7 linked regions of the Homo sapiens genome follow. The protein of the gene in region 7 purifies or fractionates together with the protein of the main gene of each other region. This does not show direct contact. Each region holds a gene or a part of one and is shown on either strand. Other genes may lie near its edges. The genes, in order: FSTL1, HEXA, GALNT7, TCF25, TMEM132A, TOR3A and DNASE2B.

Region 1 (3,500 bases), on a different chromosome or scaffold from region 7:
TAAACATGAAATGCAAATATGAAGACAGAGTGGGGTGGTTCTCTTTCCCACTCTCTTCCTGCTTTACCCATGAGGACTCCATATCATAGCACGACCTGTAGGGTCATCAGGCTGAGATCAAATCTGGTCATCTTGTTTTTGGCCATCTGACATTTCTTGTTCTAGTAACAAGATTTCATTTATTCTATAGAGAAGAAGGAAAAATCACAGGAACCTATCTCCCCTCTGGACCAATGATCAGAACCACAGAATTTATAACTTATCAAATCAAAAGGTTAGTGCATTCTTACCAGCTCACTGAGGAAACTGAGGTCCAGAAAAAAGAAGAGACAGGGCCAACTCACCCTCCTAGTTAGTCGAATGAGCATATTGGTAGGCTGGGATATCCTAAGCCCTGCTTGGCTGCCCTTGTCGCCATCCTTGGGAATACTGATTTGCCTCAACTTCTCAGAATAAATAAAAACAAATTAATGTTTGGATCTTGAAAGTTTTTTATGAAGATGCTTCTTCCCCTGGCTTCGGTCTAAGGCACCCTTGCTCCTCTGGCAGATAGTGGACTGCTGGAAGCTAGGGGGGCCAACTATGGGCTGCATCTAGTATGTGGCAGGGTGGGGGCATCTGGGTTATTTCAGCCCCTGCACCAGGAAGAACCCCAAACTCCTTCCACCTATGAAGTGGTGGGACTACTGAAAAATAATTACAAAAGCTTAATACCTAGTCAAGAAAATAAAATATTAAAAAACAATAATATAATGATAATAATTGAAGAATAAAGTCAACTTGCCAAAAAAAAGTGTTTTACAGAGAAATAGCACCTTTGGTAAAAAGTATTTTTAAAATTTGGTTAGGTCGCTAAGGGGCTCAAAGTATACAAGTATCTGCATCATTTGGGTGTACCCTCCCAGAAACTCCATCCAAGTCTGAGGGACACTGGGTTAACTAGCAGTATGGCTATGTATCTAGAGGCAGTTATTGGGACCAAGAGATGCGTGGATGCTGGAGGTCTGTCATGCTGACGGCAATGGAAAGAGGCTGGAAGCAGAGAGCGTTCCTCTCCGTGGAGCTTCCCAAACCTCTCCTCCGGGGACACCCTGCTAAGTTCTCTCTGGCATCGTGTGCACTCCCTGCAGCCTGCTGACAGATGCAGTAAACTCAAAAGAGGTTCAGATTTGGGTCTGTTCCTCTTTCAATCGTGATGCAGTTTCCTTACTAGCCTCCAGCCCCAGAGCACCATTTACAGTTTCTCTTAAAGCACTCCTAGAAATGAAGGCTGTGGCCCTTCCCTTCCTAGCCAGCCACCTTCATATCCTTTATTGCAAAACAAATAAACAAAATAAAACTCATTGCTATATAAGCAAATACTGGTGATTTGGCGACTGTAGCAGACACTTGTGTATACTGAACTCAGCGCTGAAGTGGAGAAGATGCTGGGATCCAGACACTGGTCTGTGCCTCCTCATTAGATCTCTTTGGTGCTCACTCTCTTGGTCTTTTCAGCTGTTTCCTTTGAGATGCAAGAGAAAATAGGCGTCATGGAAATATTAAACAACTGTTGGAATTTATCTGTTCCTCAAGACTATATAGCATTGGCATTTACAAGCTTATGCTGAATTTTAGTTGTTTACTTGTCGGGCTCCTCCACGGACAATGAACAATTTGAGAACAAGAACTATGGCCTATTCATGACATGGTCATGCAGGGGCTGTTTACTGAATTAAGCTGACTCCATTTGGACTCCTATGAAACAAGCAGATCAGACATTATGGTTCCCATTTTAAGGATGAAGAAAATGATGTTAAATGGAAATGCTACAAGATGTTCTTAATCCAACAAGTCCAAAGAAGTGTTAAGTACAACAGGTTCTGGAGGCAGACTGCCTGAGCTTCAACCATGGCTGTGCTACTTTTTGGGTGACCTTGGGCATATTATGAAATCTTCTGTGTCTCAATGTCTTCAACTGCAAAACCACAGTAATAAAGTACCATCTCTTACAACAGTGCCTGGCACAAAATGGCCAATAAGGACATAAGAAGATGCTCAACATCATTAATCACACGGGAAATGCAAATCAAAACCACTTGACACCCGCTAGGACAGCTAAAATAAAAAATAGCAATAACAAAACCGTTGGTGAGTATGTGAAGAAATTGGAACTCTATGGTGAAGATGTACAGTGGTGCAGTAGCTTTGGAAACCAGTTTGGCCATTTCTCCAAAGGTTAAACATGGAGTCACCGTATGACCCAGCAATTCCACTTCTAGGTAAATACCCAAGAGAGCTGACAACATGTGTCCACACAAAAACTTGTGCGAAAATGTTCCTAACAGCTTTATTTATCAGAGCCCCCAAATTGAAACAACCTAAATATCCATTAAATGATGAATGGATAACACAACATGTGGTATATTCGTATCATGGAATATTACTCAGCCATAAATAGGAAAGAAGTACTGATTCATGCTGTAAGAATGAACCTTGAAAACATTATGCTAAGTCAAAGACAGAAAAGGCTATACTGTTGTATGATACCACTGTAATATGTCCAGAACAGGCAAATTTATAGTTAGAAAGTAGATTAGTGGCTGCAAAGGGCTGGAGGAAGATGAGAATGGAGGGTTACTTCTAATGGGTATGGGATTTCTTTCTGGGATAATGAAAATGTTCTGGAATTAAGATAGTAGTGAGATGATTGACAATCTTAGGAATATACACTTTAAAGGGGTGAATTTTATGGTATATGAATCATATCTCAATTAAAGAAATAAATTTTTAAAACCTGACAACATTGCCTGATATCTAGCAGACACTGGTGTTCCATCCATCGCCCCTTTGTGTTTAATGTCTTGGTGTACACTGGCATGACTTCCTACCTACTGCCAGCACCTGCATCTCTGCCTGAGGCCTTTCTCTGGCTGCTGGAGCCCACTCTGTCCACACACACTGATAGGCCACAAATGCCAGGGAATTAACATTTCCCAGTAGCAGCCCTCAGCCAATGGCTAATGGGAGTTCTTGTAGAAACAGCCCAGCTTCATCCCCACTCAGGCACTGTTATTCCATTCCCAGAGATCCCCAATAGGATTAAGAGTCACTTGTTAACAGTGGTAACATGCCTGAATACACACTCTTCATTACTTCCTTCTCTTTCTGGACTCATTTCCCAAATCTCCCTCTGGTGTTTCCTGGCATTGCTTCCCAAATAAACTATGTGTACTTGCATCCTTGCCTCAGCATCTGCTCTGAGGGGACTCACATCAAACACAGAAACTTAAACATATTAGCTACTATAATTCACTCTGTACTGTCTGATAACTGTACTGTCTGATATTCTAGACGAAAGTAATTCCTATGAAGTTTTTTTCTCTTTCATGGGATTGAACTCATTTGGAGACTCAAGACTGGTGAAATTTGAAAAGCAAAAGACTAGAAGCTTTTGCTTCTGCTTAAACAACCGACATGAGATTTCTATACTATCAGTGACAATGATGACAAAATGCACA
Region 2 (3,500 bases), on a different chromosome or scaffold from region 7:
CAAACTTAGCACAGTGTTTGCCACAAAATACAGTTGTCCCTCAGTATCCACAGGGGATTTGTTTCAGGACCCCCGTGGATACCAAAATCCAAGGATGCTCAAGTCCCTTATATAAAAATGACATAGTATTTGCATATAACCAATGTACAACTTCCCATATACTTGAAATGATCTTAGATTACTTATACCTAATACAATATAAATGCTATGTAAATAGTTGTTATACAGTATTTTTTATTTGTACCATTTTTTGTTGTATTTTTTTTTTCCTGAATACTTTTTATCGCAGTTGGTTGAATCCGTGGATGAGGGCTGACTATAAGCCTCTGTAAGTGTTAGCTATTGTTAATTATTGTCTTCCTCTCTCTAAGGGGTTCCCCAGCCCTGGATCTGGCCTGCTCCGCCTTGCGAAGGCCCCACAGCTTGCTTACCTCAGCAATTCACAGCGGAAGTGTGACAAACGTTCATAGGCAAATGTCAGGTCAGATGTCAACTTGTTGCTCCACAGCCTTTCGGCAACAGCCCCTGCTCTGGGCCTGGAGGAAAAGGGGCATGTGCCAGATTGGGCCCTGTATTCCCTGCAAAGGTGCTGGACATCCACAGGCTGCTACCTCTTGTCTAGGCACCCTGGACTCACTCAGGCCAAAGGAAGTGATCAATACCTTGTTATGAGCCACAGCCAGGTTGGATGGCTCCCAGAGAGTTCTACGGCTCAGCTCCACCTTCATTAAAATGTGGGTAGCAATCCCACTCTCTTCCTCTCTCAAAGATATGGGAATAAGAATAAACCTTAAAGCCATCATTAACCACAATGACAGTGGCAGCAGCAGAGGTCCTTAAAATGTAAACTTTGCACACCCAACCATACTTGGTAAGGCTGCAGTGAAAACAGCAGAGGGAAGCCTTATTACAGGAATCATGGATGCTTGTGCTGGGTCTTGAGCAACTCACCTATGTTCTCCAGGCCTCATTATCTCTCTGGGAAGTAAGGTTAACAATCCCTATCCCACATACCAAAGGGCAGCTGGAGGGATATAGACGGAAGTCATGTGGAGAGTGAATATTGCACACAAATCTTCAGAAGGCTCGTTGCACGGCCTGCTCTCTCTCAGGCCTGAAAGAAGGGTACTAGTCCAGAGGTGGCTAGATGGGATTGGGTCTCTAAGGGAGAACTCCTGCTCTCAGGCCCAACCCTCCACCTCCCCCCCGAAAACCCTTACCAGAGCCTGGGGACCAGGTTTGTGTTGTCCACATATTCTCCCCACATACAAGCCTCTCCACCAATCACCAGAGCCTTCTGCTCAGGGGTACCTGAGGGAAAACAAGCAACAACAGTCTGGTGATGGTGGGGTAACTCCAGGGTCCCTCTCAACCACCTTCCCAATGTGGCCCTCACCCCAGCTAAGTTGTTTCATTTACTAACTGGAAATGTCTGGCCCAGACCTTCCTGCCTCCCATCCTGTGCCCCAACCCAGCCTCCTTTGGTTAGCAAGGAGAGCTCTCTGCTTTCACCTTCAAATGCCAGGGGTTCCACTATGTAGAAATCCTTCCAGTCAGGGCCATAGGATATACGGTTCAGGTACCAGGGGGCAGAGAGAAGGGCCCGGAAGCCGGCCTTGGTGACCAGTTCCAGCTCCTTCATATAGTTCACTGGAATATCCTCTCGCCACACCTGTATGATTGTGTCTGGCTGAATCTGTTATAAAAGGTCAAATGGCAGTAAGGACACAAAGCTGAGGAGATTCCTGGGCCTTATTCATACACAGGCAACATGGGACAACAGGTATGTGCTCCCTCTGTTCCCCAGCAGCAAAGTATGTCTCTGTGACTCCTGACCATTGAGCTCACACCTCAGGACAGAGGCCAAGGAATCCAGGGCCCTAAGAGGCCTCCCTGCAGCTCTCCTCCCCGTCCCTCTGCAGCCTCCCTGTCCACACAGAGCTAGTAATACCAGCTGTGAGCTGAGGGAGGCAAGCAGTGGGACCCAGGAGCTGCCATGTCCAAAAGTCTCCAGATGTTTCTGGGGACGGGACAAGGTTCCTGAAGAGTCCTTGCATGTGACAGGAGACTGGGATCTTACTGATCAACAATAAAGGAGAAGGTAACCTTGGTCCCACAGACCCAGAAGACCCTCATCTATGATTTAGGAAGAAAAATCCAGCCTATCCAAGTAACCTAACAGCAGAAATAGTTCTTAATTAAGTTTGTAGTGAGGGAAGATAGAAACTCTGACACATAAACCCAGGGCTCATACCACAGCGGCCTTTGGTTTTTTTGAGGCAGGGTCTCACTCTGTTGCCCAGGGTTGAGTGCAGAGGCACATCTTGGCTCACAGCAACCTCTGCCTCCTGGGCTCAAGCAGTACCCCAACCTCAGCCTCCTGATTTTTGTATTTTTTGTAGAGATGAGGGTTTTGCTATGTTGGCCAGGCTGGTCTTGAACTCCTAGGCTCAAGCAATCCCCCTGCCTTGGCCTACCAAAGTGCTTGGATTACAGGCGTGAGCCACTGCACCCAGCACTCTGTGGCCTTTCTAGAGAGAAAAGGAGAGTGCTCCGACCATTAAAGCCCAATCCAAACCAGGAGGATCAGTCTCTGTAGAGGCAGGGAGGAGCTGGGGAGACCAGAGGGAGGCACTGCTGGTGGCTTCTTCTCTTCTCTGCCCCGGCTCACCTTTACTTTATTATCAAACACCTCCTGCCACACCACATAGCCCTTGCCATAAGAAGAGACGATGTCCAGCAGCCTGGAGAGGAGAGGAGTGTCTAGTAAGTGTCTGCTTAGCTCAGATGGGTTCTAGACTGTTTGTGCCAGTGCTCTAGGGGTTGAGCCTGGCCAGGGGCCTATTCCTCATTAAGCAGTGTCTTTCCCCTGGGCTGAAAACCAACCACTCCAAATCTGAAAGGATGGGACAAAGGACAAGGGAACCCTGCAGGGACCAGACAGTGGCCAAGCAGGGCCTGACTCGGTATGGAAAGGGAGGACCCCACAGGAGGACCCCCAAGGGACCCCACCCACCCTCCTTCCTTCCTCACGTCTGGATGTAGAAGGACTCCAGCTGCTTGAAGTCCTCACCGAAGCCTTTCTTCCTCATAAAGTCCTGGATCTCTGGGTTGGACTTCCTGAATCCCAAGAGAAAATGAAGATTAATCTTTCAACATCCTGAAAGCCTAATGCCTGGGGATTAGTCACCTGGCCCCCTATAACTTCCTCTTTTCACCTGAAAAATCAAATAAGCAAGGATCTCAGAAGCCCTACATGTGGAAAGTGTGGCCAAGCAAAGTTATGTGAAGCAGGTGGGCTGTTGACACAGGCTGAGAAAGGCTGAGTCTGGACCTGAAGAGTTTTAAGTTCAAACTCCCAAAGAGAAAACATATTAATCCTCTCTGGACTGCAACATGAGAATCCAAGGTCTTAACTTGAAGCTCCAGCACACTGGATTTCGGCTTTCCTATCTGCTCTTCCAGTTGGATGACAAGCCTTGCTGTCTAACACCTGCTGC
Region 3 (4,103 bases), on a different chromosome or scaffold from region 7:
GTCTTGACTCCACAGGTGGACAGACCTAAAACAAGGAAATAGTGCAGATGAGAAAGGACCATCCCAAGTTGTCAAGGCTGTAACAGAATTTAGTGTATGACATATTCATAGTTCAAGACAAAAAGTGGCACAGGGTGAATGGAGCCACAGGTACAAGCTTGCTGGAGTAGAGGCAGAACCCATACCTGGTAAACTGGATCGTTCAGGCTATTTAAAGGGATCCAAAAAAGTCCATGTGTAGATCAGCATTAAAGAGAAGCAGAGATCTCACCATGGGTGGAATATATGCAATAGTCATCGAAGTAAAAGAACCACAAGGGGGAGGAGAAACTCAGGAGTCAGAATCCTCCCTACAGGATTTGTCCTTCTAGCACTGTACCTTAAAAGCTCCTAGGTTAGTCTTTATTAAAGGAAGGCAATAATCCCTTATTTATGCTCTTATTATTTATAAGCTACACTTTAAATTGCTTGTATTACTATTTACCTGGGAAGCCAATAAAAGGGTCTTTCTTGCTCTTCTGATACCTAAGCATTCCTCTTAATGTTAATTATGTTAAGTCTTTAAAATCTACCTTTTGTTTTTGACAAATGACAGAAATTACACTGGATCCACTGAGAAACTTTATCAAGTACACTGAAACAAACAAAAAATCAAGATATCATCACCTTCTTTATCATCACCATATAGTACTGAAATGGGCATTATGGCCCATCCTTTGTTTGCACTAATAAAATATTCCACGAGTTGGCAAGTGATGCTGATGTTCCGCCACCTCTTTAAAAGATCATCAGAAGGGCGGGACATTCTGAACCTAGCTAGTTTTGTCAGTTTTTCGTCAGTTTCTCTACCAGAAAATAGGGGGTTAAACATTTCTAGCTACATGTAAAAAGCCATTTGATGACTTAAAACAAATATCCTCAATTGCAATATTCAGTTATCCTTTGTCAATAAGTCATATTGAGAGCAAAATTATAAAAAGATCACCATCACTCCATGAGCTGAGAAGCTTAAAACCGCAAATGTACTGAAAAGGAAAACTGATACTTTTTATTACCATCAATTTAGATGACTTAGATGGGAATCTATCCCAGATATTACAAAGGGATTCCACTGCTGTAGAGACTTCAAATACTAAAACTTCCAGATTACATCTAATCTCATGATATAGGCGAAGAGCTGATAATGGGATCTCCTCCTAGGATTCTTACTCTTGAAAGGACGCCACAAGCCTTTTTGCCCAACTTCTTGATGCTAACTTTCCAGAAGGAAAGTTAAATAAACATGACATAGAAGCGATGCTCATCACACTTGCAAAAAGCACTTTACAACAGAGAGAGCGACTCGACTCCTCCTGCAGCCCCGCCGCCTCGGCGGTCGTGAGCCCCTCATACCCTCTCCTACCCCCACTGGCAGCCGGCCCAGTTGGCTGTCCCAGCGGGGAGGAGGAAGCAGGTGGTGCAACGGTTCATCCGGGGGGAAGCAGGTCAGGGTCGGGGGCGAGGCCGGTGCGCGCCGCCCGCTGCCGGGTCAGGGAAGCCGCAGTGCCCGCGGTCCCTTCCCCGCGCGGCGCGGCTCCGGGTAACTAATGTTCCGAGGCGCCTGACTAAACCCTCCAAATCCAAGGAATGTCAGCGCTAACACTCGCGCCCTGGGCGGCAGACAAATGCGTCCCAGCGGAGCCGCCGCGAGCTCCGCGCCGCCGCTCCCCTCGGCGTCGGCCTGAGCTAGCCGGCAGCCGGCGCGGGGCGGCCGGGCGCCGACACAAGTTAGTTTTCCGGCCCAAGCAGCCCTGCCGCAGCCAAGGAAGAGGAACTGCTCCTCTTCCCCCGGATAGCGCCCGAGCACTGCCACAGCAGGGGCTTCCCCAGGCGCTGAGGGCTGGGGGCGGCGGGCAGGCGGGGCGGGGACGCCCCTCCGCCATCTCCGGCCAACCGCCCCTCCCTCGCCCAGGGACGCGAGGGGGACCGGCGGTCCGGGCGAGGCCTCGGCCGCGCATCGCACCCCGGCTCCCCGCCGCCGGAGTTGAGGGGGAGGCGCGCTCTCCGTAAGAGCCGGAGGCGGGGCGCCATCGCCCTCCCACTCCCCGGCGGGCGGGCCGGGGGAGCCCGGGGCTGCGAACACCCCCAGACGGGCGGCTGCGGGAGGGGAGGCTGGACCAAGGGGCCTGGTCCACCGGACCAGCGGTGGCGGCATCGGCATCTCGCCTCCTTCAGGCCTGCACGCGCCACAGGCCGCAGCCTGGACCAACCCCGCGTCCCCGGGCCGTGAGCGCTGCGGTCCCGGCCCCCCAGAGCGGGACGCCGGGCGGCCGCAGCCCCCCGGACCCGGCTCTCCGCCCGCTCCGCCCGCAGTCCCGGCGCGGAGAGCGGCCGCCCGAGCCGCTGCCGCGGCAGCGCGGGTGTCGGCGACGGAGCCCGGGGCGGGGAAGAGCGGAGGAAGGGGCGGCGAGGGGGCGGGCCGGCGGCGGCCAGGGAGGTCGGAGTGCGCGGGGCTCGGCACCCCCTCGGCCCGCGCTGCGCCAGCACCACCTGCGGAGCTGCGGTGCCCACGCCGTGCCGCGACCCCGCCGCCCCTGCTCCCTCCACACGCGGGCAAACAAAACAAGTTGCCGGTCGCTGCCGCCGGAGGGGGCCGGGCGGGTCACTCACCCTCATCCTGCTCAGCGGGCTTGGGTCGTCCGGCCGCGGGGTCAGGGAAGACCAGAGGACCACTAGCCCCAGGAAGCTTCCCACCACCAGCAAACTGCGTAAGATGAACCCAATCTTCAGCCTCATCTTCCTCCGGCGGCGAGAGACTCACAGCCCGGCGCAGCCGCCGCCACCGCTCTCCCCTCCCTCCTTCCCCCTCCTCCGGCTCTCCTCCCCCTCTTTCCCCCACCCCTACCGCTACGGCTGCCGCCCTCTCCGCTGCCTGCCCTTTCCAGCTCCAGATCCGGAACTCCCCTCGGCTACACCTTTCCCCGGGCTCTTCCCTCCGCTCCTCCCCGTGGCCCCCTCCCCTCTGGCGGCCACCGCAGAGCTCCGACTGACCCGTGTGCCTCGCTCTGCCAGGCTGCCTTCCTCTCTACCTGCCCCCTTCCAGATCCGCAGTCCCCTGCTCTCCACGCGAGCCCCCTTCACAGTCCCTGCTACCTTGTAACTAACTTGCACTTTTCCCGAGTCCGGTTCTTAGCCTTTGCCCTGCAGCTCAGCTCCTTAAAGCTTTCAGATCCCCAAACTTTTATTGTAATTATGGACAATAACTCCGTCCTTAACGCCTGTGCCCTCCGGGATCCCGTGGCCCGCCGCCCCCTCCGTTGGACCTGGAGTCGCTCTCGTCTGCACCTCTCCCTTAGACCCACTTCCCTGAGCCCCTTGTCGAGAGGCTTTCAGGAAGCCAACCAGGAAGTGGGACTACCGCTGCTGCTGCAGCAGCTCCACGTGGCTGATTTATAGCTGAAGGGTTTTTTTTTTTCCTTCTTATTGATTGTTCTTGCTTTTTCACACGGCTCCTTAAGGTGGTGAATTTGTAACCGAAAGGCCCAGGTGAGATGTGCAAATATCACTGGATTGGAGGAGCTCACTTGGAAAGCCAGTATTCCTCCTGAGCTAATGAAAAGAAAGGCTGTCGTCTTATGCCAAAAGCAATACCAACCTTGTTCACGGGCTGGTAAGTTTCAAATCCAAGGACCACGGATTTCAACTCCACCCTCATTGCGTCCCTCAGATCTGATATTTGCCACTTGATTTCTGCTTTTCAAACGCCTTTTCTGCCTGTGTTACCTAAATTACACAGTAAAGGATATTGGCAAGTGTTTAGCCAAATGCCCCACCCTGAGGAAATAATTTTTCTGCCCATATCTCCCAATAAAGATGTCTATGCCTTTATAGCAGAATGTATGTAATTACATTATCAGTGTACTATATCCTAAACTGCTAATTTAAATTTAAGTCGAACAAAACGTTTTAAGATTTTATCCTAAGTTTTTTGGGGTTTTTTTTCTTTTCTTTTTTTTTTTTTTTTTTTTTTTTTTTTTTTTTTTTTTTTGAGACGGAGTCTCTCACTCTGTCACCCAGGCTGGAGTAGAGTGCAGTGGTGCGATCTTGGCTCACCTCAACCTCCA
Region 4 (3,500 bases), on a different chromosome or scaffold from region 7:
AATTTCATTGGAAGAGACAAAACTAACATAAAGAAAACCAGTGGAGGAAATTCAGACCCAGCACACAGTGCAGACAATCTGTGCAGAACGGGTCAGCGGACCTTGGCTTGCCAGGAGGGCTGAGAGGGTAGGAGCGGATCCCACACTGCAGACAACCCAGGGCGGCCAGAGAAACAGGGCACTGCACACAGGAGAGGCAGGACAGCGGACAGAAGCTGGTCTGCTCCACAAAGGGCCCACAGGACAGGCTGCGGGAAGGCCTGGCGGAAGCCAGTCTAGGTCTGACCAGCGAGGCCTGATGCCAGAGGGATGGCTTTAGGGGCAGAAGTATCTGAAAGAAGAGAGACCTCCACATGCGGTCGCTCAGCACAGGGGAGCGAGGGTCAGGCTGACTCTGAGCTCCTCACTGATTTAAGGTCAAACCTGCAAAGCCTTCCAAAGCTTCTAAACTTGCCAGGGATGGGTTTTCTCAGCCAAACATAGAAGGAAATGCAATTGCAGAGCCCACTGTGGAGATCTGGTTTCTCAGGCTCACTTCTTCTTCTTCTTCTTTTTTTTTTTTTGAGAGACAAGGTCTCACTCTGCTGCCCAGGCTGGAGTGCACTGGTACCATCTCAGCTCACTGCAGCCTCGACCTCCTGGGCTCACTTGAGTGATACTCTCGCCTCAACCTCCCAAGTAGCTGGGACCACAGGCACGCGCCACCAGGCGCAGCTAGTTTTTAAAATGTTCTGTAGTGGCCGGGCGCGGTGGCTCACGCCTGTAATCCCAGCATTTTGGAAGGCCGAGGCGGGTGGATCGCAAGGTCAGGAGATGGAGACCATCCTGGCCAACACAGTGAAACCTCGTCTCTACTAGAAAATACAAAAAATTAGCCAGGCGTTGTGGCACGTGCCTGTAGGCCCAGCTACTCGGGAGCCTGAGGCAGGAGAATGGCTTGAACCCGGGAGGTGGAGCTTGCAGTGAGCCGAGATCGCGCCCCTGCACTCCGGCCTGGGTGACAGAGTGAGACTCCGTCTCAAAAAAAAAAAAAAAAAAAAAATGCTGTTTTGAGACTGCATGTTGCCACGGTGCTCAGACTGGTCTTGACACCTGGGCTCAAGCAACCCTCCCACCTCGGCCTCCCAAAGTGCTGGGATTACAGGCGTGAACCACTGTGCCCAGCCAGGCTCACTTCTAACACAAACATTTATTTTTATTTTTATTTTTTTAAGAGATGGGGGTCTCACTATGGTGCCCAGGCTGGACTTGAACTCCTGGGCTCAGCAGACCTCCCACTCTGACCTCCACAGTAGCATCAGGCATGTCCACAGACAAAGGTAAACCTGGGCTGAGACAATCCCATCCCTCTATCCTTAAGCCCAGAGAGAGGAAGGTGGGTCACTCTGGACCTGTGGGCCCTGGTCCACCCTGGAGGGCAGCCATGAGGTGCCCACTGCACCTCCCCCAGCCTCACTCGCAGGAGAAGGGAAGGGGAGCTGCGTCACCTCCAGGGCAGCTGCACTCACCTGTTCTCGGGTCTGCGGTAATCCAGCCGGCAGGCCCCACTGGTGAGACTGAACAGGGGGTGGAACGCACATTCCATGCTGTACAGCGCTCTCTCTGTGGGCACAGGGACGCCAGGGGAGGGTGTCATGGCCACACACAGCAACCACGGCCCCTCCTCTGATAATGGACAACAAGGAAAGGTCTGGACGGAAGGTCACGAAACTAGAGTCCTGGACACTGAGAGGGCAGACATGCCCCTGGGCACCCTGGATGCCACGCTGCATTTATTTCAACCACAGAACTTGTGAGCTTGACATGGTAACACTTTCAACACCATGAGGCACAACTGCTGCCACGTCCTGACAGAACCAGGCGTCCATGTGTGCAGCACAGATGTGTCCACCTAAGACTGCGTGTGCATGCTGACGTAAGCACTATTATTTACAACAGCCCACACGGCCGTCAACTAATGATGGATACACAACATGTGGTCCGTCCACACAGTGGAGTATTACTAAGCCATAAAAACGAACGACGTTCTGATCGACGCTACAGTGAGGATGAACCTTGAAAACTTCATTGTAAATAAAAGCCAGAGGGCGGGGCGTGGTGGCTCATGCCTGTAATCCCAGCACTTTGGGAGGCTGAGGTGGGTGGATCACAAGGTCAGGAGATCGAGACCATCCTGGCCAACACGGTGAAACCCCATCTCTACTAAAAATACAAAAAATTAGCCAGGTCTGGTGGCGGGCGCCTGTAGTCCCAGCTACTCGGGAGGCTGTGGCATATATTAAACACCAACAAACAAAAACTTTAAATGGGTAAGTTTTGTGCTACGTAGGTTGTATCTCAATAAAGCTGTCATGGATATCCTGGCAACCCCTGTCATCTTACACCATCGCATCTGTCTTGATAGCTTGAGGTGCTCCCACAGCTGAGGGGAATGGGGTGGGGGCTCTGCCTTACCTACGAGGTCTCGAGCCATCTCCTGATCCTCTTGAAAGCGGCAGGCATCGCTGAGCTGCAGGAGTGAGTCAACGTGGTAAGGGCTCGTCTGGAGCAGAACCTACCAGAAGGGAGGACAGCCCTGGAGGAAAGGCACTCAGCAAGGCCCCAGCTCCCAGGCATGCCTTTTTTTCAGACATTTAAAACCAGCGGAGGCTGGGCGCAGTGGCTCACGCCTGTAATCCCACCACTTTGGGAGGCTGAGGCAGGAGGATCACTTGATATCAGGAGTTCAAGACCAGCCTGGCCAACGTGGCAAAACCTGGTCTCTAATAAAAATACAAAAATTAGCCGGGTGTGGTGGCGTGTGCCTGTAATTCCAGTTACTCGGAAGGCTGAGGCAGGCGAATCGCTTGAACCCGGGCCGAGACTGCGCCAATGCACTCTAGCTTAGGCGACAGAGTGAGATTCCGACTCCAAAAACAAAAACAAAAACGGGGGAATTACCGGGTCGACACTCACAACGTCCCCCCAACTCAAAATAGGCTAGTTATTATTGCTAAGCTGAACCAATTATATGACTTAAAGCAAGAACTCAGAACCTGACATGCCCAGGCCAGGGGCCACCTAACTCCCCACTAAGCCCCAAGAAAGAGGAATGGAAAGCAGCAGCCTGCTTTTCCCACAGGGAGATGACGGGGAGCTCTGCGGAGGCTGTCCGGGGTTGCAAGGGGAGCTGTCCGGCGGCTGCGTGAGGGCCGCCCGGGGGCTGTCTGGGGCTGCGCGGGGGCCGTCCGGGGCTGCAAGGGGAGCTGTCCAGGGGCTGCATGAGGGCTGTCCAGGGTTGCACCGGGGCTGTACGGGGACTGTCCAGGTCCGGGGCTGTCTGGGGCTGCGCGGGGGCCGTCCGGGGCCGTGTGGGGGCCGTCCGGGGGCTGCACGGGGGCCGGGAATCTGAGCTGCTCGCCTGCACTGAGCCGCAGGAGGCAAGGGCAGCAGTGAGAAGCCCCAGAGTCCTGGGCCTGCATCACACGGCACTACTGCGACGGTCCCCAGGAACGGCTGAG
Region 5 (3,500 bases), on a different chromosome or scaffold from region 7:
CCTGCTTCCACCAAATGATCCTTTCTCTGGGCCGTTCACATTCCCCCAAAAAGCCCAGCTGCAGTTCTGCGGTTGTGAACTCTTCTTATTCATGCCCTGAGCCTGGGTCAAGGCCATGGACTCAGTAGCCCCAGTTCGAATTCTGGTTCTGATGCTTTTGGGATGGGCAAAACCTTGGGCAAGCCAGTTAACATTCCCCTACCCAAGCCTCAGTTTCTTCACTTGTGAAATAGGAATAATAATGCATCCCTTAGCATTTTTGAAAATAAAATACAGTGCTACATATCAGGCACCCAGGACGGTTCCCAGCACATAGGTTTTTGTTTGATCAAAGGAAGCTTATCATTCAGAGGGTCAAGTGTCTGGTCCTGGGACCTGGAAGTGAATCTCCCGCATGCCACCTCAGTGGCTGTGGAAAGCGGAAGTCTGGGGGAAGCGGGCCCGGGCAGGCAGGGGAGTGAGCCACCTTGCCAGGTGGGAGGTGGTTAAATGGCTTCATGGATCTTAGAGAGGCCAAGAGTGGGTCAGAGTTTGGGGTCTAGAGCGAGGATGCTTGGGTTTAGATCCCAGCCCCGCTACTTTTTGCTGTGTGGTCTTAAGTGAGCTATGTAACCTCTGTGCCTCAGTTTCCTCCTGTGTAAAATGGGGATAATCATGAATGCAGGAAGTGCTGAGGCCATGCCTGGCAGCTAGCAAGCATTTGGCTTCTCTGTCTCCTTTGGCCAGCAGTCCCCTTGAACTGTCTGAGTTCCTATGGGTGGACTTTGTGGTGGAGAATAGCACTGGTGGGGGCGTAGCGGTCACTCGCCCCGTCACGTGGCAGCTGGAGTACCCAGGCCAGGCCCCTGAAGCAGAGAAGGACAAAATGGTGTGGGAAATCCTGGTGTCTGAGCGGGACATCAGAGCCCTTATCCCACTGGCCAAGGTAAGGAGACCTCCATCTCTGCCTGGGAAGGCTGGAGGCCAAGTCCCAGGAGCCCCATGAGCTGAGGGGCCTGGGGCTGAGCCCCTCCTCCACCCCCAGGCTGAGGAGCTGGTGAATACAGCACCACTGACTGGAGTGCCCCAGCATGTCCCCGTGCGCCTTGTCACTGTGGACGGCGGGGGGGCCTTGGTGGAGGTGACAGAGCATGTCGGCTGCGAGTCTGCCAACACACAGGTCCTGCAGGTGAGTGGCAGGTGCCCAGCTCATGTGAGTCTGCATTTGTGTGGGCACAGTTACGCACACACACCTTTCCTCCTTCCTCATGTGGGTCCCCAAGAGAACAGCTTCTTCTTGAGACGAGAAACCTCATGGGAGGAACCACAGCTTCAACTTCTTTTGTTCCAGCCACCTCTCTCCCGAGTCAAGTAACCCTAACAGCCCCCCGACCTTAGACACTTTCACGCTCATTATTGCACTGGCAAGTGCGCTGGCCTGAGAGAGTCGAGAGCACATACTCTGGGATCAGAAAGTTTTAGTTTGAAACACATCTTTGTTGTCAACCAGCTTTGTGATCATGGGCTGGTCTCTTAACCTCTCTGAGCCTCGTTACCTAAACTTTAAAATGAGAACATATCTTCGGGTTGTTGTAAGAATTAAAAGCACTTTAAGACAGTATTTAGCAGATAGCAGGGGCTGAAACAATGGCAGTTATTGCTGTTATAATATGATGTAATAATTATACAATGGTAAAAATTATTATTATTATTATTACCGGTGATTGTGAAGTGAAATAAAAGGGAGGGTGGTAGAGCAACTTCCTCTATCTTGAAGTTCTAAGAGGGGAAGCATGGAGTCTGCATGTATGCAAATCCCAGCCACCTGAAGGGGGAAGGTGCCTTTCCCCACTTGTGGTCCTTTGCTCAAATGTGTGTGGTTCCTGCTGGAGGGCCTTGGTGGGAGATCTGCTTTGTCCCACCTCTGCCTACCTGGCTGTAGCTGGTTGCCAGGTGGCTCCAAGAGCAATGTCAAAGGCCAGCATGAATAAGGAGCCAAAGTTTTGGGTTCACACCCCTGCTCTGCCAGGAGGAAGACTGGTATGCAATGGCCAGTTCCCCTGACTGAGCCCCAGGGAACCTCAAGGAATGGCCCCTACAGTAAAATCTTAAACAAAGAACAGGGGCTTAACCAACAATCCTGCTGCAACATGCATTCCAGTGACACACAGAGCTGAACTCAGTGGGAGCCCGTCCTACGGCCTGAGGTCAGGGCTGCTCTCTTCTGGCCCATGCCTTTTTTTTTTTTTTAATCTATTTATTTTGAAACAGAGTCTCACTCTGTCCCCAGGCTGGAGTGCAATGGTACAGTCCGGCTCACTGCAGTCTCAGCTACCCAGGCTCAAGGGATCCTCCCACCTCAGCCTCCCCAGTAGCTAGGACTACAGGCATGTGCCACCACACCCGGCTGATTTATTGTATTTTTTGTAGAGAGGGAGTTTTGCCATGTTGCCCAGGCTGGTCTCAAACTCCTGGACTCAAGCGATCCACCCACCTCGGCCTCTCAGAGTGCTGGGACTACAGGCATGAGCCACCCACCCGGCCCAGCCTCACACCTGTCTTTAGTGGCTTAGCCCGCCCACCTGCCCTCTGCCCTTCCATAGGTGTCTGAGGCCTGTGATGCCGTGTTCGTGGCTGGCAAGGAGAGCCGGGGCGCCCGGGGGGTGCGAGTGGACTTCTGGTGGCGCCGGCTCCGCGCCTCGCTGCGGCTGACCGTGTGGGCCCCCCTGCTACCGCTGCGTATCGAGCTCACCGACACCACCCTCGAGCAGGTCCGCGGCTGGAGGGTACCTGGCCCTGCTGAAGGGTGAGTGGAGGCCTGAGGAAGCTGGCAGGCCTTGGCGAGTCACACTGGGACGGAGAGGGCGCAGGGGACACAGCCATGGGCCCAAGTCGGGGTCAGAAAAACTGCCCTGTTGCTTGCAGTTCCTTCTGCCCACCTCCACCCTGGGCCGCCCAGCCAATGATCGCTTTCTGTGAAATTGCTGACTTCCGCATCCCTCTCCTCCTTCCCTGCCTCACTTCTCCCGTAGCACCCTCCACTTCCTAATCTACGTCAGTACTGGTTAATGTTGCCTGTCCATCCTTTCCACGCTCCTCCCCCGAGAATGTCAGCCCCTTGAAGCTGCGGTCTGTCTATGCTGGTCGTACCCTCAGAGCCTAAGATGACACAGAGCTCAGGAAATGAACACCCTCGGAGGGGGCTCCCCAAAACCCAGGGAGAGGTGGCCCACGCCTCTGGAATCTAGCTTCCAGGCCCTTCAGAGAGTGAGCGCCCCCAGGGTCCCCGTAAGAGAGCGTCTCCCCTGCGGTCCACTTGGGAGCAAGAGCGGTGATCGAGGCACAGCGCCAGTCGGGAGTGGGCTGGGGCGGCTCGCCTGCAGGTGGAAGGGCCTGACCCCAAGAGGGGCGGATGTCTGCGTTTGAGAAACAGGAGCTGCTGGTGATTAGGAGCCGCCGGGGACGAGCTGCGGGTCTCCAGCAGCTGGGCCCTGGGCAGGCTGGGGCCGCTCAGCGCTGAC
Region 6 (3,500 bases), about 95 Mb from region 7:
GAAATGGCCGTGTTGGACTTGATGGGAGACTATGCCGTTCTCTAACCAGGCTTGCCTTGGGAATTTGTTTCAAAAAATCTGTCACCCAGATTGGAGTGCAGTGGCCCGATCTCAGCTCACTGCAACCCCCACCTCCTGGGTTCAAGCGATTCTCCCACCTCAGCCTCCCGAGTAGCTGGGACTACAGGCACATGTCACCACGCCCAGCTAATTTTTATATTTTTTGTAGAGATGGGGTTTCACTATGTTGCCCAGGCTGGTCTTGAACTCCTGGACTCAAGGGACCCGGCCGCCTTGGCCTCCCAAAGTGCTGGGATTACAGGCGTGAGCTACCACAGCTGGCTGCTGCTTTCTGTACCAGAGTTTGTGCTGTTTTTTCTTGAGGAAAGGTTCTGAACCTGGGGGCGTGTGGAAGCCTCCACTGCCAGCTAGTATCTTCCCCTCCCCCAGCCCTCCTGACTATTGTTCCCCAGAACCCACCTGAGAAACAGAAAGATAGTCCATGGAGACTCAGCCCTGTGGCCCTCAGGGGCCCGGCGTTCTAAGTGTGGCCCAAGGACCTCCAGCAGCCCTGGGTGCAGCTTCTCCGCTTCATCGAAGATGAACAGGGTCTGGTGGCAGAGCTGCTGCGTCTCCCGGATCTGGCTCATCAGCTGCTCCTGCACGGGATATAGGGAGCAGCTGGGGAAGTGGTGACTCCTTCCACCTCCGGCCTTGAGGGCGTGGTTTCCCCTGGGCATGTGCAATGGACCCCCTGGGGCTGGGTTCCCCACCCCCCGCCCCCCGCCAGAACCTATCAAATCCAAGCTCTTGGGGAGGGCCTAGGACATTTGCATCTGACCAGCTCCCAGGTGATTCTCAAGCACCCTGAGGGTTGAAAGCTAAACAAGGTGAAGCCAGCTTGGGGACTAGGAGACAGCCTAGAAAGGAGTGGGGAGAAGCCCTTCTGCCCTTGAGAAGGGGCCCCTGCTCCAGCCCTGCTCTCTCCTCTCCAGGACTACATCCCATCCAGGAGCTAACAATGTCCACACACCCGCAAACTTTCATTACTTCTACAACAAAAACATCCAGGCGCAACTTCCCTGTTTAAGCTCAGGGTCTATTCCCAGGGGGTGGATAGGAGTTGAGCTTTCATACAGGGGTGATGGGCAAAGAGAGGCTCATGTGCCCAGAGGCAGCCACAGTCCCCTGCCCTGAACTCCCGGGTGCAGAGCGCCCACTGGCACCCTGGCTGGGCCGAGATCTCAGGGGAGCAAGCCTGCTGAAGGACTGACTGGGCCTAACCAACATCCAACTTGGCTCCTGCAAGCTGTGGAGGGTTCCTTGCCCCAGGCAAGACAGTAAACCCTCAAGTGAAAAGATGGTTCTTTGCAATGTTCATCGAAATGGGCAGGGAATATATTATTCAGGGCCAGCTCCCACTCCAGAGCCCACACTCCCTGTCTACTGGGTGCACCTTTGTGGGGGAAAGTGTGAGGTGCAGGGCTATGCACATGCCAGTTTTCACAGCAGGGAAGCTGGGGCTGCAGCAGTCTTGCCACAGTCTAAGCCAGACAGTTCTGCCCGGAAAGGCCCAGCTCAGCCTGCCCCTGCCCTCCAAAGCCATATGGAAACTGCCAGGAGACGCGGGCAGCCTCTGTCCTCAGACGCTGACATAATCTTCCCAGGTGAACACATTCCAAATATTAAAACAAAGCCAAAGACAGGTGCAGTCAATTCTGTCAGGCTCTTCTGGTATGTTTTCAATACTACATGGCTGAATTAGTAGAAGAAACCCAAAATGGCAGAACAGCCAAGGAAATTTCTGTCCATCCACTTGCTGGTATATAATAAGCTGATACGGGAAGACATGAAAAAATCAGGTAAGATAGGATAGGCCTGTTTTCTTTTTTTTTTTTTTTTTTGAGATGGAGTCTTGCTCTGTTGCCCAGGCTGGAGTGCAGCGGCACGATCTCGGCTCACTGCAAGCTCCGCCTCCCGGGTTCACGCCATTCTCCGGCCTCAGCCTCCCGAGTAGCTGAGACTACAGGTGCCCGCCACCACGCCCAGCTAAGTTTTTGTATTTTTAGTAGAGACGGGGTTTCACCGTGTTAGCCAGGATGGTCTCGATCTCCTGACCTCGTGATCCACCCACCTAGGCTTCCCAAAGTGCTGGGATTACAGGCGTGAGCCACCATGTCCGGCCAATAGGCCTGTTTAAATTTTAAAAAGGCAGGATATACAACTTTCTGTCCAACGTAGTTACAATGACAAAGAGCCTGGGGAAAGGTTCCGCACCAAAGGCAGCACATAAAATGCTACCTCTCCTTAGCTGACAAGGGTGTGTCCGTGTGGAGAGTCTGACAGTTTTTGCTTTTCTCTGTTCTACACTGCAGTCTGTGACATTTCACTACTTCTACAACAAAAATCAACATGCAGCGTCCCTGCTTAAGCGCAGTGTCCAGCCTCTCGAGTGTGGCTGTTTGGGGACAGAGCAGGGGGTGGTGTTTGGAACGCCAGTCTCTTCCACATGCTAAGGGCCTCTGTGAGGAGTGGACGGAGTGGCTCTGTCACAGGTTCTGCCACCTGTCCCCACCTCCCCAGGCTTCTCCAGAGCCCATTTCCTTGCAAGGAAGGGCTGGCAGAAGGGTCTCCCTCCCAGCACAGAGGCCTCACCCCAGCCCTGGTCGGCCTCACCTTGTACAGGTCCACATATTTGGGGTGAGGAAAGTGGAACGTGGCGATGAACATCCTGACACAGTCACTCATCAGCCCGTCCCGATACAGGTTCTCCACCAGCATCCGTGCCACGAAGTTCTTGCCTGTGCCAGACCAGCCGTGGAACGACAGAGCAAGGGCCTTTTCTGGCTGGGGCGTCTCTAAGTAGCCCCTCACTGTTCTTAGGACCAGCTGCTGGACCAAATGCTGGCCATGCAGCCGCACATTCAGGTCCCACTCTAAGCCTAAGGACAGGAAAGAGGTAGTCACAGCAAAAGGCACACACAGGCCCATCCACCACAACAGCCAACAGCCAAGAAACCAAGCAACTCTGAATCTCTCTCGGGTGGAATCAGTTACTCCTCCTGTTTGGCCTTAGAATAAGAAGCCAGAGGGCAGACTTTGTAGCAGAAGGGATTCAAGGACTACTTTCTTTTTTTTTTTTTTTTTGAGATGGAGTCTTGCTCTGTCACCAGGCTGGAGTGCAGTGGCGCAATCTCAGCTCACTGCAACCTCCGCCTCCCTGGTTCAAGCGATTCTCCTGCCTCAGCCTCCCGAGTGGCTGGGATTACAGGTGCCCACCACCATACCCAGCTAATTTTTGTATTTTTAGTAGAGACGGGTTTCACCAGGTTGGCTAGGCTGGTCTTGAACTCCTGACCTCGAGATCCGCCCACCTCGGCCTCCCAAAGTGCTGGGATTACAGGCGTGAGCCATTGCGCCCAGCCTCAAGGACTACTTTTTGAAGAGTTTGGGAAATCAAGATGGGACTCAGGGAGAGTGGAATCACCCTTCCTAAAGAT
Region 7 (3,500 bases):
TCTGGAAAAAAGTGCCACAAAGGACACTTATTGGTAAGAAAGAGAAGCAAGCATCAGGATTTAAGGCAGGAAGGGACAGACTAACTGTACTGTTTTGTGCAAATGCAGTTGGGTTGATAATCAGGACTACACCTATCTATAAAGCTGCTAACTCTTGAGCCTTGAAGGGAAAAGATACATACCAGCTGCCAGTTGTACAATAAGAAGGCCTGGGCAACAAAACCCTTTTTCTAAATTGGTTCCAGTGATGCTTTGTCTCTAAAGTTAGAAGGTACCTTGCCAGTAAGGAACTGCCTTTTAAAGTTCTTTTGGTATTGGATAGTGCCACCGGGCACTAAAAGTCCCATGAGTTCAACACCAAAGGTGTCAAAGTTGTCCACCTGCCCCCAAACATAATGTCTCTGATTCAGCCTCTAAATCAGGTTCATAAGAACCTTTAAGACTCATTACATATGATGCTCTCTGGAAAGGATTGTCAGTGCTATGGAACACATGATAGAACACATGAAAGGATTACAGCGTTGAAGATGCCATTTCTGTTATAGGAAAAGCCATGAAAGCCATCAAGCCCAAAACAATACATTCCTGCTGGAAAAATCTGTGTTCAGATGTTGAGCATGACTTCACAGGATTTATGACAGAGTCAATCAAGAAAGTCATGAAAGAGATTGTGGATATGGCAAGAAAGGTTGGGGGTGATGGATTTCAAGATATGATTCCTGGAGAAATTCAAAAGCTAATAGACACCACACTAGAGAAATTAACAGAACATAACTCAATGGAACCAGAGCCAGATGATGAGCAAGAAGACATAGAAGAGGTGGTGCAAGAACACAGATCAATATTAGACGCAGTCTGATCATTCAAGGCTGCTTTTAGGCTGGGTGCAGTGTCTCATGTGTATAATCCCAGCACTTCAGAGGCCAATATGGGTGGATTGCTTGAGTCCAGGAGTTTGAGACTAGCCTGGGTAACATCATGAAACCCTATCTTTACCCACCCCCTCCGCCAAAAAAAAAAAAAAAAAAAATTAGCCAGGCATGGTGGTGCATGCCTGTAGTCCCAGCTACTCCAGAGGCTGAGGTGGGAGGGTCACCTGGGCCTGGGAGGTCGAGGCAACAGATAGCTCTTATGGTGCCACTGCACTGCAGCCTGGGTGTCGAATGAGATCCTGTCTCAAAAGAAAAAAATATAAAGATTGCTTTTAACTTCTTTTACAACATGAACCCTTCTGTGATACGGGCACTGAAACTAAAGCAAATGGTGAAAAAATGATTACTACTGTATAGAAACATTTTTGGAGAAATGAAAAAGCAAATAGATAGAATTCATTATGTATTTTCATGTGAAAGTTACACTGAGTATGCCTGCCTCTCTTGCTTCCCCTTCCACCTTCCCCACCTCTCCCATCTCTGCCACCCCCGAGATAGCAAGACCAGCCCTTCCCCTTCTTCCTTCTGCTCAGCTGACTCAACAGGAAGATGACAAGGATGAAGACACTTATGATGATCCATTTCCACTTAATGAAGAGTGAATATATTCTCTCTTCCTTAATGATTCTCTTAATAACATTTTCCTTTCTCTAGCTTACTTTATTGTAAGAATATAGTATATAAGATATATAACATAAAAATTACATGTTATTCGACTATTGATGTTATCAGTAAGGCATCCAGTCAAACTGATGTTATCAGTAAGGCATCCAATAGGCTGTTAGTAGATAAATTTTTAGGAAGTCAAAAGTTGTACATAAATTTTTGACGGCATGAGGGCCGGCACCCCTACCCCAGCATGGTTCAAGGGTCAGCTGTCGTCTGTTTATTCAAAGCAGGTTTGTTGAGACAAATAATTTTGAAAAGCATCTAGAAAAGTGCTTGGCACATCACATGTTCTCAAATAGCCTACAGATAAGCTTTAACTTTGTAGCTTGGCTCTGAAGGCTAGTCTTAATGGCAGGTAAATAACATGAATATTACCACACACCATGACAGTTCCGTGTGTATTTTGAGTAAATACTCAGATACACATGTGCAGTGCCAGAGGCTAAAACAGGATTGTTGTGGGCATTAAATTACTTGACATATGTAAAGGCCCAGCATACAGTCCAGCATATTATAGGAGCAGAGTCATGTTATATATTTACTTGTCTATAAGTTATTGTTAGGAAATGCATACATGAGTATAATTGGATGTTAATCATGGCTTGATTTTACTTGCCACTCCTGGTTGGAAAGCAGTATCTTGAAACTAAGCAACAGATGATGCCTAGAATATTGGGAGCATGCCCATAATAAGCCAGCAGGCCTACTTACCTGTGTCTCTTTGGCTGATTAGCTCATTGCCTGATAAAGTCCAGATATAGCAGGGATAATCTCCATCCAGACAAGTTAGTTCTAGGGCCTTGAACTAGAGTCCTAGTTTTCAACATATCATTTTGAAAACAATTAATGAAAAGGAAGATCAAGTAGAACCCTTTACTGAGCTCACCACCACTGATCAACACCATGATATAAACAATCCATAACTCATAGCATGTTAATCACAGTTCTGTATTGCCCTGTAACAGCAGAGGCTCCTCTCCCTATTTCTATTAGATGAATAAGCAAACTGACAGACATTTTGGCAGCCAGAAGACTTCAATATACAATTAATTCACACCTTGCCTAGTGACACCACTGGACATGGTGCCAAGTAAATTTGGCATTGCTGTAGAGTATGATGACATGTTTCCTCAGGTCTTAGTCAGATTGACTCAGATAGTTGTCTTGAGCTGGTCCTGAGCTAGCTCACTTCAAGGTGCTAGGATTGGGGGTTGGGTGGGTGAACAGAAAACTCTGGTGAAGGCTTTGGATTCAGTTTTATGCATTTTATATTATTCAAGTGAACAATTAACTATATAACATACCTTAGAGGCATATGCTTCATATAGCTGTTGTAATGTCCTTCCCAAAACACTCTTGGTGTCATTCATTAGTTGCTCACTCTTCCTCCAGCTTCTAGTTGTAGAGTCTAGGTACAGGTACTCTAACCCAGTCTCTCCACTTTCCTTGTTTTGTCTTTTAGGTAACTTATAAAAAGTAAACCTAACAGACAAAATGATTATGAATTACTAACATTTATTGACTGTTTTCCTGTGGCAGTAACTGTATTACACACTTTAATATATCTCTCATTTCTGTTTCATGGAAGGCCTCTAAGGAAAGGGATTTGCTCAAGCTCTTTGCCTCTTTCTTCACTCTTATCTTTGCTCCTCCCCAGAGAAGAAAATAAAAATCTGATTGGATATGTTCTAAGACCTTGGTTATACTGGTGGGTGGAGTCCCTGAAGTGGAAGTCCATATACATTGAGAGTGGCTCTTTCTGTTGCTTCCATGATCCATGTGGCTACAGTGGAGAGAAGGCCAAGGCCCAGACCATGCAGTTGGCTGACTGGATATGAGATTTGGGTTTGGGCTTCAGGAGAGGTGGAAGGTACTTTGAGCCCCTGTCATAAGCTGCAT

What was found.
Region 1: the proteins of DNASE2B (region 7) and FSTL1 purify together in Homo sapiens (affinity purification with mass spectrometry; 3 studies listed by BioGRID and IntAct, with this or other methods). This does not show direct contact.
Region 2: the proteins of DNASE2B (region 7) and HEXA purify together in Homo sapiens (co-immunoprecipitation; one large-scale study listed by IntAct). This does not show direct contact.
Region 3: the proteins of DNASE2B (region 7) and GALNT7 purify together in Homo sapiens (affinity purification with mass spectrometry; 2 studies listed by BioGRID and IntAct, with this or other methods). This does not show direct contact.
Region 4: the proteins of DNASE2B (region 7) and TCF25 purify together in Homo sapiens (co-immunoprecipitation; one large-scale study listed by IntAct). This does not show direct contact.
Region 5: the proteins of DNASE2B (region 7) and TMEM132A purify together in Homo sapiens (affinity purification with mass spectrometry; 3 studies listed by BioGRID and IntAct, with this or other methods). This does not show direct contact.
Region 6: the proteins of DNASE2B (region 7) and TOR3A purify together in Homo sapiens (affinity purification with mass spectrometry; 3 studies listed by BioGRID and IntAct, with this or other methods). This does not show direct contact.

The regions. Positions count from the first base shown.
Region 1 is NC_000003.12:120,395,493-120,398,992, forward strand, and holds part of FSTL1 (follistatin-related protein 1 precursor), read right to left. Parts: intron 1,505-3,500; coding exon 1,460-1,504; 3' UTR 1-1,459.
Region 2 is NC_000015.10:72,345,015-72,348,514, forward strand, and holds part of HEXA (beta-hexosaminidase subunit alpha isoform 2 preproprotein), read right to left. Parts: intron 3,121-3,500; coding exon 3,034-3,120; intron 2,745-3,033; coding exon 2,672-2,744; intron 1,697-2,671; coding exon 1,513-1,696; intron 1,312-1,512; coding exon 1,221-1,311; intron 537-1,220; coding exon 432-536; exon of another isoform or gene 215-431; intron 1-214. UniProt on the Homo sapiens protein: Hydrolyzes the non-reducing end N-acetyl-D-hexosamine and/or sulfated N-acetyl-D-hexosamine of glycoconjugates, such as the oligosaccharide moieties from proteins and neutral glycolipids, or from certain mucopolysaccharides.
Region 3 is NC_000004.12:173,167,508-173,171,610, reverse strand, and holds the start of GALNT7 (N-acetylgalactosaminyltransferase 7), read right to left. Parts: upstream 2,801-4,103; 5' UTR 2,776-2,800; coding exon 2,650-2,775; exon of another isoform or gene 1,959-2,649; intron 1-1,958. UniProt on the Homo sapiens protein: Glycopeptide transferase involved in O-linked oligosaccharide biosynthesis, which catalyzes the transfer of an N-acetyl-D-galactosamine residue to an already glycosylated peptide.
Region 4 is NC_000016.10:89,894,092-89,897,591, reverse strand, and holds part of TCF25 (ribosome quality control complex subunit TCF25), read right to left. Parts: intron 2,555-3,500; coding exon 2,455-2,554; intron 1,603-2,454; coding exon 1,509-1,602; intron 1-1,508. UniProt on the Homo sapiens protein: Component of the ribosome quality control complex (RQC), a ribosome-associated complex that mediates ubiquitination and extraction of incompletely synthesized nascent chains for proteasomal degradation.
Region 5 is NC_000011.10:60,930,960-60,934,459, forward strand, and holds part of TMEM132A (transmembrane protein 132A isoform b precursor), read left to right. Parts: intron 1-726; coding exon of another isoform or gene 727-729; coding exon 730-925; intron 926-1,024; coding exon 1,025-1,168; intron 1,169-2,582; coding exon 2,583-2,785; intron 2,786-3,500. UniProt on the Homo sapiens protein: May play a role in embryonic and postnatal development of the brain. Increased resistance to cell death induced by serum starvation in cultured cells. Regulates cAMP-induced GFAP gene expression via STAT3 phosphorylation.
Region 6 is NC_000001.11:179,085,070-179,088,569, reverse strand, and holds part of TOR3A (torsin-3A precursor), read right to left. Parts: intron 2,943-3,500; coding exon 2,677-2,942; intron 660-2,676; coding exon 481-659; intron 1-480.
Region 7 is NC_000001.11:84,401,484-84,404,983, reverse strand, and holds part of DNASE2B (deoxyribonuclease-2-beta isoform 1 precursor), read right to left. Parts: intron 3,085-3,500; exon of another isoform or gene 3,084-3,084; coding exon 2,906-3,083; intron 1-2,905. UniProt on the Homo sapiens protein: Hydrolyzes DNA under acidic conditions. Does not require divalent cations for activity. Participates in the degradation of nuclear DNA during lens cell differentiation.